2 separate regions of the Homo sapiens genome follow, and region 1 is linked to region 2. Evidence: fine-mapped expression QTL. A gene starts in region 2. The other region holds a variant in brackets. All regions are shown on one strand. Distances are between the middles of the regions.

Region 1 (2,916 bases), 250 kb before region 2:
GAAGTCCAAAATCAAGGTGCTGGCACATTCAGTATCTGGTGAGGACCGGCTTTTTGTTGTGTCCTCACATGGCAGAAGGAGTAAAGATGTGCTTTTGAAGCCACTTCTATAAGTGCACTAATTGCCCCCACAAAGGCTCCACATCCTAATACCCTCATAATTAGGGACTCAGTATCAACATATGAATTTAGGGAGGCAGAGGACATAAACATTCAATCTATAGTACCAAACCTGTCTCTCCTGAGCTCCAGTCCCATATTTTAAACTACTTACTAGACAACATCCTCACCTCTGCCTCATACTCAACTGACCAGAAACAAAATTCATCATTTATCCCCCAAACTTGCTCCATTCCCTTTGTTCTCTAATTTGGTAACTTGCACCTCCATTAACTCAGGTAACAAAGCTAAAAATGTGATTATATTCCTTATCTCATGTATTCAACTAGTTACCAAGTTCTATTAATTCTACCCTCCTAACATCTTTCATATATCCTTTTTTAACCCTCTTCACTGCCACTACCTTGCTTTAGAGCAAGCTTGTCCAACCCATGGCCCATGGGCCACACGTGGCCCAGGATGGCTTTGAATGCAGCCCAACACAAATTCAAAAACTTTCTTAAAACATTATGAGTTTTTTTTGTGTGATTTGTTTTAGCTCATCAGCTATTGTTAGCGTTAGAGTATTTTATGTGTGGTCCAATACAATTCTTCCAACGTGGCCCAGGGAAGCCAAAAGATTGGACACCCTGCTTCAGAGCCCATATTAGGTTTTTTTTTTTTTTTTTTTGGTCATAAACTGCAGAAATGAACCCTAAGAAAATAAAGGATTTATTTGAAAGAATATTAGGAAAGCTCACAGAACTGAAGAGAAAATTGTGTAGTCTTGCTTTAGGAAGGACTAGATCTGGGGCAGCTCCGGGGACCTCAGCAGGTAGAGCTCAGAGCTCAGAGTCTTCCAGCCTGGGATACCACATGAGGTGGCTCAGGTGCAATCATCTTACAGCTCTGTGGGTCATTAGCAAACTTTCAAATTCTTAGTATAACCTGGTTGGCCACCTTTGAATCAATCATCCAGAGCTAGGATGCAGGAGTGAATGGCACTAATTGGTGATGGCTATAGACCCTTATAATTTCTCAACCCCTCCTCAGCACTGTCATAGACTTCTCAAGGACCTCTTTGCATCTTTCTAATCTATAGTTCTTCTGTCTTTCCAATCTATAGTTCACATGCCACTATTTTTGTATTTCTAAAATATATATTGTTCAATAAGGAGATTATACCTCATTTAAAATCTCTTGTTAGCGCTTCATTACTCAGAATAACCCACAAACTTCCTATCAAATAGTTCATTTTAGGATTTGGATCCTGTCTTCCTCTCTAGTCTCACCTCTCACTACCCTTCCCCTAAATCTTATGTTCCTGGCATATTGCAATTACAGTATTTTCAATTCCCCTAAATAAGCCAGGCTTTGTTGTATTCTCATGTTTTTGCCTCTGCTTCTCCCTCTTTCTCAAATGTCTGT[C/T]CTCTCATCACCTGGTTAATTCACACTCATCTTCCCCAGCTCAGTTTAGGCAGTAGTTCCAAATCTCTCTCAGTCTCTTCTCAGTATGGGTTAAGTCCCCTTCCTCATTGCTTCCATAGTACCCTAAATTTAGATCTAATTTGGCATTCTACTCTGTTGCAATCAACCGTTTCTTTGTCTCTCTTCCTGGCTAAACTGTGAGCTCCTAAAGGAGCTCAAGAATTACATCTGATTTATGCTTTGTTCTCATCACCTAGGAGAGTGTCTAATATGTCATAAATGTTCAGCAAATATATTGAAATAAGCAAACACTAGTTTTGAATGCATAAGATACAAAGCACTGGGAGGGGGGCACAAATATGTTTAAAATTTACATTTCCACTTTTAAGGGACTCACAGCTTAAGAGGCAGACAAGACCCGCACATAAGAAAAGTGAAAACAGAACTACAAGACACTATACAATGACATGCACAAAACCCAGTGACTATAGTCTAGAGTTTGGGATTGCATTAATCTAGAAAATCTTCTCTTTAAAGGAATGACCTGAGTAGTAACATAAAGAAAGAAGATTCAGGGCTGGGCATGGTGGCTCACGCCTGTAATCCCAGCACTTTGGGAGGCTGAGGTGGGTGGATCACAAGGTCAAGAGATCGAGACCATCCTGGCCAACATGGTGAAACCCCGTCTCTACTAAAAATACAAAAATTAGCTGGGCATGGTGGCAGGCGCCTGTAGTCCCAGCTACTCTGGAGGCTGAGGCAGGAAAATCACTTGAACCAGGGAGACAGAGGTTGCAGTGAACTGAGACTGTGCCACTGCACTCCAGCCTTGTGACAGTGTGAGGCTCCGTCAGAAGAAAGAGAAGGAGAAGGAGAAGGAGAAGATTCAAATGGCTGAAGAGATTGGGGACAGCATTTTAAGTATGGGGAATAAGAAAAAATGCTCACTGTATTTGAAGAATGCAGTGAAAACATTGGCTTAGGTAGAGGTAGATTAAGAGATGGTGAAGATGTGTGTGTGTGTGTGTGTGTGTGTGTGTGTGTGTGTGTGTGTGTGTAGAGAAGTCATAGGCTGGCAAAATAAGAGATTGGCAGATTTTGTTTAAATATGCCTTTAAGTTTTGGCCTTTTCATTCTCTGTCTCCAACACAGAACACCTCAGCATTCTAGATTGCCTATTCATCACAAATTCCCTCTGTCTCCTCCAGAATCCAGAAAAGAATAATTACGATATTTTCAAAATGGAAAGTTCCCATGCCAAAGACTTTGCCTTCTTCACCAAACTATGATTTCGTGATGTTCTTAAAGGTAGTGTACACCAGGTTTTTACATTCTTATTTTGAATGTAGTTTTAGTGTTTGTGTGATTTGTTTTTCAGCCTGGCCTGCAG
Region 2 (2,916 bases):
AAGGTTGGGTTGCTGAAGTGCCTAAGAGAACAAGGGCATGTGAGGCCATGTTGTTGAATGGGTCATCTCACAGACCCTGAAGTAGCTCAAATGTGTGCTATTATTCACTAACAGACAACTGGCGAGTATGAACTGCTCAGAGTAACCTTTCTCCATTCCTGGAAAAACAACTTAGAGCAAAGGACAAAGGGTTACTGTGTTGTTCCTTTCATGTAAAAGGAAATAATAATTTTGATGGATTTGGTGGGACATTTAGGAGCCAAGTCAAACTGTGTGTGTAATTGTTTTGTAAAGGTGCTAGGACTTCATTTTCAGATCCGGAATGGGAACAGGTGGTGGCTGGTGGCAGGAGTCACAATGGTTTCCATGACGACGGGATTGGGTCCTAGTCATCCTCCCATTCTCCACAAGACCTACTGCAGCTTTTCTCATAAGGTGCTTATTAAGTATTTGTTAAATGAACGATGAACCACAGAATAGCGCGTGTGCTTTGCAATTAAGGATGTCGCTCTATAGCTAGCCTAAAAGCTTTTAAAGCACCGATAATTACTGTATTTACCCATGTATTTTGCATAATTCGCATATTAACTTAACCAGAAAATAATAAACCATACTCTCCCATTTCTGCTGAACAACCCTGGCCCATATAATATTCCCTGTTGTGGAATCAGTAGCCCAGATGTTTGGTTGAAACGGCCATAAAACGGAGCTGGGGGATGGGGAGTCTTGTGTTGTATTTATGGTTCCACATTAGCTAAAACTCGTGTTTTGTCCCGGCTCTCAAGCCACTGCCCCCGCCCCCGGCTTTGCGCAGGCGCCAGCCTTCCCCTCCCCCCGCGCCTCTCTTCCCGCCCTAAGGCTGGAGCCGGCGAGCCCCAGCCCAGAGAACAAAAGGCCTCGCTAGCCGGCGTCCCGCGTTGCCCTTGGCAACCATTGAGCGGCGTCTTGCCCTTCTGCGACCCTGAGATGAGAGAGTAAACGGGGCCCCCATTGGCCGGCCGGGGAAGACGGGCCAATCGGAGAAGAGGGTATAGGGAGGCGGCTGAACAAGGTTGTGGGGGTAGGAAGCTAGGGTTAGAGGCAACCCGTGAGGCTAGAACCCCGAACGTGGTCGGTTGGAGAAAATATGTCCCTCCGGAGGCACATTGGGAACCCTGAGGTGAGGGCCAGGTCTCGGCCGGAGAGCCGGAGGGGGCGGGCGCACCGGAAAAGGCTCATGTGGGCAGGGAAGAGCAGCCAGCGACTTCCGCCGCCCGGAAGGCGGGAAGGGGCCGGCGTGAGGAGGGGTCGGGATGCAGGGGCGGGGCGGGCCGGGCTTGGGGGCCGCGGGGCAGCGTTCAGGACCCCGTTTTGAGGAGCGATCTCTCCCCGCGTACGCACGCCAGTACTTGTGACTGCGAGGAGCGAAGTACCCAAAGACACAGCCCTTGCCCTCAAATGGCTTACAGTCTCGGAGTGACAGTTACAAAACAGAAAAGACAAAGGAAGCGCTGCACACTAATGGCACGTGTTGAAAGCCAGCCAGCATCTCTGATTGTGGGGATACAGGAAGAGCAGGAGTAAGCTGACCAAACCTTTGGAAAACGGGCAAAATAGGACATTAGGCTTACCCCTCTCTCCATAGGACCCTTCAGTTTCTTCATCTGTTTCACCGCTAGTCCCCTGCTGCATTTGTGGCAGTTTCAACAAACGTTATTGGAAACTTCCACGGTGCAGTAGGTGCTAGACGTACAAAGAAGACAAGGCCTCTGCCCTTTAATAAATTGCGTATAGTGGACCAGGCGCGGTGGCTCAGCCTGTAATCCCAGCACTTTGGGAGGCCGAGGCGGGCGGATCACGAAGTCAGAAGTTTGAGACCAGCCTGGCCAACATGGCGAAACCCCGTCTCTACTAAAAATACAAAAATTAGCCGGGCGTGGTGGTGAGGCGCCTGTAATCCCAGCTACTCGGTAGGCTGAGGCAGGAGAATCGCTTGAACCCAGGAGATGGAGGTTCCAGTGAGCCGAGATCGTGCCATTGCACTCCAGCCTGGGTGATAAGAGCGACTCTGTCTCAAAAAAATAAAAATAAACAATAAATAAATTGCGTCTAGTGAAGGAGCCTGTGAACAGAATTTGAGTACAGTGTGGTCGGGGAGCAAGATGTTACGAGAAAATAGGTAGTACTCAACTGAGGGAGTGAGAGAAGGGTTGTGGAGATGGAAGGGGTGGCAAGGCCATTCATTAGCCAGGTGAAGCATCATCCCGGGTAGAACAGCCCAAGTGAAGGTAAGGAGTGTGTGAACTCAGAACAGGCCCCTGTAGGAGTCCAGGCTTTCTCTGCCTTGCTGAGGTTCTTAGCCTTTATCCCAAATAGGAGTTGTAACTGTTTCATCTCTTGGTGGCTGCCTGGTACTAGGCTGAGAAAGCTGTAAGGCTGAGTCTAAGCCCTGCAAGAGAGCCATGGTCAATTGGTAATGTCTAAATGCTGCATGATCTCACTTATACGTGGCATCTTAAAAAGTCCAGCTCATAGAAGTAGAGAATAAAATGGTGGTTACCAGAGCCTGGAGGGTGGGGGGAAGGAGGGCAGAAATGGGAAGATGTTGATCCAAGGGCACAAAGTTACAGTTAAACAGGAGGAATGGTTTTTGAGATCTCTGGCACAGCATGGTGACTATAGTTAATAATAATTACAGCAGACTCATAACCCCCAGTAGAAAATCCATGTACAACTTTTTACTCCCCTCCCCCCTGCAAAAAAACTTAACTACTAATAGCCTACTATTGACTGGAAGGCTTCCTGATAACAGAAACACTTGATTAACATATTTTGTATCTCATATGTATTATGTACTGAATTCTTAAAGTAAGCTGGAGGAAAGATTATTATTAAGAAAATCATAAGGAAGAGAAAATATATTTACTATTCATTAAG

Evidence for each region. PIP is the estimated chance that this variant, and not a neighbour inherited with it, causes the effect. A credible set is the group of variants that fine-mapping cannot tell apart.
Region 1: its variant is the best candidate, but not a certain one, in a credible set for the expression of CEP41 in whole blood (TOPMed, PIP 0.89).

What each region holds. Positions count from the first base shown.
Region 1 is chr7:130,686,362-130,689,277 of GRCh38, reverse strand. It overlaps TSGA13 (testis specific 13), which reads left to right and starts at 2,733. Exons shown (of 8, transcript NM_052933.4): 1 at 2,733-2,916. The variant C/T (reference allele first, on the strand shown) is at 1,527.
Region 2 is chr7:130,439,177-130,442,092 of GRCh38, reverse strand. It overlaps CEP41 (centrosomal protein 41), which reads left to right and starts at 1,077. Exons shown (of 11, transcript NM_018718.3): 1 at 1,077-1,159. The coding sequence starts at 1,127. It overlaps LOC105375505 (a long non-coding RNA gene), which reads right to left and starts at 339. Exons shown (of 3, transcript XR_927973.3): 1 at 1-339. RefSeq lists an enhancer at 637-1,391.